2 linked regions of the Homo sapiens genome follow. The protein of the gene in region 1 purifies or fractionates together with the protein of each later gene. This does not show direct contact. Each region holds a gene or a part of one and is shown in the gene's direction. Other genes may lie near its edges.

Evidence for each region.
Region 2: the proteins of CYGB (region 1) and HNRNPA1L2 purify together in Homo sapiens (affinity purification with mass spectrometry; one large-scale study listed by BioGRID and IntAct). This does not show direct contact.

What each region holds. Positions count from the first base shown.
Region 1 is NC_000017.11:76,535,604-76,539,515, reverse strand, and holds the start of CYGB (cytoglobin), read left to right. Parts: upstream 1-1,806; 5' UTR 1,807-1,973; coding exon 1,974-2,116; intron 2,117-3,912. UniProt on the Homo sapiens protein: Probable multifunctional globin with a hexacoordinated heme iron required for the catalysis of various reactions depending on redox condition of the cell as well as oxygen availability.
Region 2 is NC_000013.11:52,640,916-52,644,570, forward strand, and holds HNRNPA1L2 (heterogeneous nuclear ribonucleoprotein A1-like 2), read left to right. Parts: upstream 1-1,515; 5' UTR 1,516-1,577; coding exon 1,578-2,540; 3' UTR 2,541-2,858; downstream 2,859-3,655. UniProt on the Homo sapiens protein: Involved in the packaging of pre-mRNA into hnRNP particles, transport of poly(A) mRNA from the nucleus to the cytoplasm and may modulate splice site selection.

The sequences.
Region 1 (3,912 bases):
CAGTGAAGGGCTGGCAGTTTTACCCTCTGGACAATCCTCTCCAAACTTTTCTGATTACACGCCCTCTTCAGTAAAAGGCAGAATTCAAGTGTGCACTCACAAAATAGACAGGTGCAGCCACTTACAAATTATATGCTAGACTACTGTACAGATTCATTCCTACACCATACGACTATATTACATTTGCAAAGGATGAGATGAAAAGAAATAGTTACACGATTTCTCCTATTTTCTTTCCACATCCCAAGGGGACCTGTTGGGCAGCCACTTGGTCACACCAACTTTGAGAAGCTGTTCAGTGTGTGTGTGGAGCATGGAGCCAGCCATGGCCACGCTGAGACATGGGTCTGGGAGTGGTGTGAGAACCTGAACCCACCCGCTCCCCTCCAGCCCCTCCAAGACCCCCAGGAGGCATTAGATTTTCATTCCCTCAACAAGGGGGAGACAGTGTCAGAGGCACTGCCTCAGGGTCCCCCAGGCACCTGAACCCTGAGCTCCCAGGAGGGGCCCAGGCTGCAGCTGAGGCTGGCCAGGGTGAGTTCTCCTCGCCTCCCCCGGACCTTAAAGTCGGATTTTAAGAATAAATACATGAACCATAGTGAAAGCGCAGAGCCAACCCTTAGCAATGCTTGGGCAATGGGACATCAAGTCTTGAGCGAGGACAGGGGTCGCCGGGAGCCTGAGTGACATCTCTTCCCAACACTGCCAGGCCCTGTCTGGCCTCAGGCTGTCCCCAGGACTGAGCAGCCGCTGCAGGGCAGGCACCATGGGATTCTCCCCCCACCTCTGGCCCAATCTCACACTGCCCTGGATAGGGCCCACCAGGAGGAAGGATTTGCCTCCCCCAGGCCCGGAATCGGGCCCTTGGTGGCGGCTGAGATGTCCCCAGCAGCCTGCGCCTTCCTCAAGACTTTTTGTCTGCCAGGTCCTGTCTGCCCTATCCGGTGCCTCTCTGGACTTCCTCCGCCACCAGCTGGGCTAGAATTCAGGGCAGCGGCTGGTTCTTGCCTGTCCGTGTCATTCATAAGCCACGGGGGACTTCTGGCCGCCGCCGCCGCGTTCGTGCACCGAGGGCATGGAGGTGCTGGGCGGAAGGAGAGGGGGCGCAGGCCTCTGGCGCCCGAGGTCGGAGGTGCGCTCAAGTTCCGACAGCCGGGGCGGTGGGCGGGCAGGGGGACGACCCCCGTGCTAACCCCCCAGAGCCTGGGCGTCCAGAGCCGTGGGAGTGGCGCCGCGGCCCCCAGCGGCTGGCTCGGGGGCGCGGGGAGAGGCCCGGGCGAGGGGAGCCCAGCTAGGTCCACGGCGGCCGCCGGAGGGGCTCCTGTTCGCCCCCACGGGCGGGCTGGCGGTCGGCCTCGCCGCGAAAGCTCGGGAGTGTTGGACTTTGAGTCAGTTCCCCGCCGCGGGAAGGGTCCGCACGCGCACACTCGCGACGCCGCAAGCACTGGGACCCGGAACCCAGCGCTCCCGGCCCGCGCCCGCCCCAGCGCACTCCTGTGCGGCCCGCGCCGCCCAGCGCCGCGTGACCGCCCATTCCTCCCGGGACCCCCAGCGCCCCGGCCACACCTACCCGAGCCCCGCCCCGCGGTGCAACTCCGCCGTGGCCTGCGGGTGGGCGGGCGGCAGTCGCGTCGCCCCCACCCCGCGCAGCCTTCACCTTGCCGGCATTGGCTCTTACCCACACGGGGCTGGGGGTTTGGAGCGGATTTGTTTTTTTAAACATTTTCCAGCAGACCACATCCCCGCCCCACCGCTGGCTGTCCCCCGCCCCCCGCACATATACCCTGCACACACGCACGCACACACACACACACACCCGGCGCGCACAGACACACGCTCCCTCCCTCCGCGCTCTACCCCTCGCCCGCCCGCCGCGCACGCAGCCGGCCCCGGCTCCCGGCGCCCCGCGCCCCGCGCCCCGCGCCCCGCCACCGCCGCCGCCGAGCAAAGCCGGGCTGGGCTTGGAGCTGCTCATGGAGAAAGTGCCAGGCGAGATGGAGATCGAGCGCAGGGAGCGGAGCGAGGAGCTGTCCGAGGCGGAGAGGAAGGCGGTGCAGGCTATGTGGGCCCGGCTCTATGCCAACTGCGAGGACGTGGGGGTGGCCATCCTGGTGAGGTAGGTGTCGCCCGGCCCGGCCGGGCCCTGGGCAGGGAGGGCGGCAGCGGCTCCGGGCAGAGGAGGGCTGGGCCCGGGTCCGAGCTCCAGCGCCACCTCCCCAGCCGCGAATGGGGCCGGTCCGAGGTCGGCGGAGCAGGCGGCGTGGGGCGCCTTGGGGTGAACGAAGCCTGGGTTGAGCCTTCCCTGGCTCCGGCGCGGTGTTCACCAGGATCTAGGAACCAGATGCAGGAGAGCACCTCGGTCCCCCTCCTCTCCCCGGCCTCAGAACTCCTTGCTCGGCCAGCCACCCCAGACACCCAGCCAAACTGTCAGACACACACATTTTTCTGGCCTTTCAAAGGTAGTATAGCAGGGGCTCCCCATTTTAGAGATGGGAAAACCGAGGCTCAGCCAAGAAGCGGGACAAAGAGGAGCAGAACCCTGTCTCCAGCTCAGCGGCTTGCGGGATTCAAAGCCTCTTGGAAGAACAGAGAGCAAAGAGCAGAGGTTGAGAAAGAGGAGAGCCCGGGGGGTCCAGTGTTCCCAGCTGCCCCCTTCCCGCTGGAGGGCACGGGCCAGCAGGAGCGCCCAGGGCAGGCACAGGTGAGTGGAGAAGCAAACAGTCCCCTAGGATACAATCCCTGCTGAGTTTGGAGGGTGAGGGGAAGAAGAGAGAAGCTTCAGGAGACAGGGCCTAACCCTAAAACCTCCCACCTAGGGAGGAAATGCAGTGGCTTGGGCTTAGGGGTCATTCAGGCACTACATGCCCCCAAGAGACCCACAAACACAGAGCGCCCCGTTCTTCACACACCTAGGCTTAGAGCACACACACCATCCTTATAGAGGTGATGTGTCCAAGTCTCGAAAGCTAGTCACTGACTCTAGCTACAAATCCATGCTCTCTTTCCACACGTGCTGGTCCCTGGGGGTGCAGGCAGAGGAGCCCCAGACCATGCTCACCCTCAAGCCCCTCTTCTTGGCAGAGGAAAGCGGTCAAATCTAGGACAGAGCAGGGCAGCCTTGTCATGTGCAGATGGGGTGAAGCCTCGCTCTGGAAGGGCAGCTTTAGTGCATCCTTGACTACCAGGCCTGCTCCATCTCCAGCTTCTTCTCCCTGTGGCCTCTCCCAAGCCTGGGACCGACCCAGCTCCACCATGATATGCCCTGATTCCAACTCAGAAGCAGATTTTGGAGGAAAAAGAGCAGGAAGCACTTCTAAGGAGTTAGAGGAGCGCTCCTGAGGATGGGGCAGCTATCTCAGCAGCCCCCAAGCCCAGAAACACAGTCGGGAGTGGCAGGAAGCTAAGAGGGACATTGGGATACTAGGGCCTCAGACGCTCGGAACCACCAATCCCCACAGGTGCTGGCACCCACACAAGCACATTGTGGGTAGCAGAGCCGCAGATGTGCCAGACTGCGTCCTCGGAGGGTGCCGTCAGCCGTGTGTCAGCACCTGCAGCCCACCGGCCTTGCATGCGTCTGGCACACTCATGGGTCACCATGAAGAAGCGAGGCAGGGTCCTCAGGACCTTGGAGGTTTTGTGTCCCAACCCCTGCCAGGTACCTGTGCGGATACGTGGAGGAAGTGCTCACCGTCCACATCATGGAACACCATTGAACCTCCCCAGGAAGGGGACCAGGGTAGGGCAGATGCCAAGGGAGAAACGAAACACCGAGGCCAGGGCCATGTCTGGGCAGTCCGAGTTTTCAGCAAGGATTTCTTTCTCTCTCTACACCCCTCTTCCAGTTCCCCACTCCTGTCTCTTAGAGGGGCCTGGGCCTGGGCTGGGGGAGGTCATTACCAATGCACTCAG
Region 2 (3,655 bases), on another chromosome or scaffold:
TCCACGTCCAATCAATCATGCAGCCCAGGTAATTTACCTCCTCAAAAGCTTTTAATTTGTCATTTGTCTTCATGTTTCTACCTTAGTTTAAGTTACCATCATTTCTTACAAGGAATATGCAAACTTCTGAACAGGGTTTACAAGGACCAGCATGATCTGTCCCGATATTACATCTTGACTCTCTGTAGCCCTAACATAATCTAGTCATCAACTCCTGAATAAGACATGGCTGTCAGTACTTGGCCTCTCCACACCAAATCATTGACTCAAGATTGTTTATTAAAGAAGGACCTGTGATGCTGTTGTCATTGTCCTTAACCTGTAAACTTGCTGCCTTCCTCACTTTCCATTTATTCTTTAACCCTCTGTAGTATTGCATTTGACTTATTACCCTGAATTTGTTGTTACAAAGGTCACTAAGAGTAACCAATTTCCATATTGCTGAATCCCATCCTTCCTTCTCTTCCTGGACCTCTTGATCAATTGATAACCTTTCATAACTCACTTTTCCTCTAAACTCTCTATTGCCTTCAGTTTTGCCCAATCTGAAGTGCCCAACTGTCCTATCCTGCTTCTGTAATATTTTCCCCCTTTTACCATGTAAAAAATAATTTCCTGATGTTCCCTTTGGGTTGCTCCAGAGACTTTTTCAAAGATTGGAGTTCTCCCAAGTTTTGTCTAAAGGTCACTGTTCTTATTCTCTGTTTTCAACTTGTCCGCTTCCAATCTGTTCTCCCCAGTGCAATAGGAGTGTCAGTCTAATTATGTCAAGCCTTCAGTGGTTTTTTAAATCTTTTCAGATGGAGTTGAGGCCCTATGTGGTCTCACCTCTTCTTTATCTCACCAGCCTTATGATCAAATTCTGCACTCCCAGACATAATAGCAATTAGAATAAGAATGTTTTCAATTGCAAGAAGCAAACAGAAAAACCCAACTCAAAATTATTAAATAATACAAAACAAAAAGTCAGGAGTTTGGAGGCTTCTGGGTTGGTTAACTCAGGAGCTCACTGGTATCACTGATGAACTAGGTTTCTCCATCCTTATGCTTTCACTTTCCTTGGGATATTGGTTTGGTCTTCCAGGATGGCTATTGCTAAAGGTAGCTGCAGTAATTTATTCTGTGTTTCTGTTTATCAATAAGGAGACCTTTCCCAGAATCCCTGAGCAGACACCTCATGCATGGCCCAATTGGCTAGATTAGTTATATACCCCTTCTTAAACCATATTGTTTGCCAATATGGCCAACAATGTGGGGTTGGTGATCCCAACAATGTGGGATGTGGGATTACCACAAATGACTTAGTCATGTGCTGGAGAAACAAAATTAGGGCTTCACAGCAAGGAAGAAGGGAGGAATGAAGTATCCTACTGTTATGTATACTTGTCTTTCTTCCTGTACATACACTAAAAAATGTTCAGGCCCATATGAAAAATGTATTTATTTCCCAAAGAGAATCAGCCAGAATCTCATCCAAATACTCTATCCAGCTTCATATCTAAGATCTCTGGTGGACTTTTTCTGCCCGTGGACGCCGCTGAAGAAGCATCGTTAAAGTCTCTCTTCACCTTGCCGTCATGTCTAAGTCAGCGTCTCCAAAAGAGCCCGAACAGCTGAGGAAGCTCTTCATTGGAGGGTTGAGCTTTGAAACAACTGATGAGAGCCTGAGGAGCCATTTTGAGCAATGGGGAACGCTCACAGACTGTGTGGTAATGAGAGATCCAAACACCAAGCGCTCCAGGGGCTTTGGGTTTGTCACATATGCCACTGTGGAGGAGGTGGATGCAGCTATGAATACAACGCCACACAAGGTGGATGGAAGAGTTGTGGAACCAAAGAGAGCTGTCTCCAGAGAAGATTCTCAAAGACCAGGTGCCCACTTAACTGTGAAAAAGATATTTGTTGGTGGCATTAAAGAAGACACTGAAGAACATCACCTAAGAGATTATTTTGAACAGTATGGAAAAATTGAAGTAATTGAAATCATGACTGACCGAGGCAGTGGCAAGAAAAGGGGCTTTGCCTTTGTAACCTTTGACGACCATGACTCCGTGGATAAGATTGTCATTCAGAAATACCATACTGTGAAGGGCCACAACTGTGAAGTTAGAAAAGCCCTGCCAAAGCAAGAGATGGCTAGTGCTTCATCCAGCCAAAGAGGTCGAAGGGGTTCTGGAAACTTTGGTGGTGGTCGTGGAGATGGTTTCGGTGGGAATGACAACTTTGGTCGTGGAGGAAACTTCAGTGGTCGTGGTGGCTTTGGTGGCAGCTGTGGTGGTGGTGGATATGGTGGCAGTGGGGATGGCTATAATGGATTTGGTAATGATGGAAGCAATTTTGGAGGTGGTGGAAGCTACAATGATTTTGGCAATTACAACAATCAGTCTTCAAATTTTGGACCCATGAAGGGAGGAAATTTTGGAGGCAGAAGCTCTGGCCCCTATGGCGGTGGAGGCCAATACTTTGCAAAACCACAAAACCAAGGTGGCTATGGCGTTTCCAGCAGCAGCAGTAGCTATGGCAGTGGCAGAAGATTTTAATTAGGAAACAAAGCTTAGCAGGAGAGGAGAGCCAGAGAAGTGACAGGGAAGCTACAGGTTACAACAGATTTGTGAACTCAGCCAAGCACAGTGGTGGCAGGGCCTAGCTGCTACAAAGAAGACATGTTTTAGACAAATACTCATGTGTATGGGCAAAAAACTCGAGGACTGTATTTGTGACTAATTGTATAACAGGTTATTTTAGTTTCTGTTCTGTGGAAAGTGTAAAGCATTCCAACAAAGTGTTTTAATGTAGATTTTTTTTTTTGCACCCATGCTGTTGATTGCTAAATGTAATAGTCTGATTGTGACGCTGAATAAATGTCTCTAAAAAAAAAAAAGATCTTTGGTGGAATCCGTAGGCTGCTTTTTCATCTGGTGGCTGTGGCTCTCTGGTGTTTTGTCCTCAACAGCCACATCTAATATGAGCACTGGGAAGAAGACTCTTTCTAAGGCTGCTCAGCTTTAGAGTACATTTCTTGATGGTGTGAGCTTGGTGTCCTGTCTCAGAGTCACTAGTTTCCCAGCCCGAAACAGTTGTGTCTCAATGCCCTCCATCCTGCCTTTTCCACCCGGCCAATTACACACCATTCTAGGTCTGTTTTGTAGCACTCCACTTCCAAATACCAAATTGTCTATCAGTTTGGATTCTTAGTCGTAAGCAACAGAGATGGATTCTGGTTTTCAGCATAAGATAAATTGTATTAGAAGAATATTGTGCTGCTTGCAGAATGGCCAAAAGGACTAGAGAATCAGCATCAGTCTGAGCCACACGGCTGGGAATAAATCCTGGAACCATACTGCATAACTGGTCGGGTGAGGAGATTGTAGCCACTGTTGCCAAGCACTGACACACTGCTTTGTAACACTATCTGCTGCTTTGGGAATTTGATCTTGACACATGTGCTACTGCATCTGGAGAGGATACACTAAGGTCCTTCCTTGATTTGTTGTTGCTAACCAGTTACCAATTTTAAAGTATGTGCAAGTTCAGCTTAAGTTGTTTGGCATTTTCAGCTTTTATAGAGGGAGACTGGCTCAGTGGGAAGACTCAAGGAATTCCCCAGACATAAGAAGGAGCTGAATTCTAAGTAACCCAAAAGAAAGACCTACTT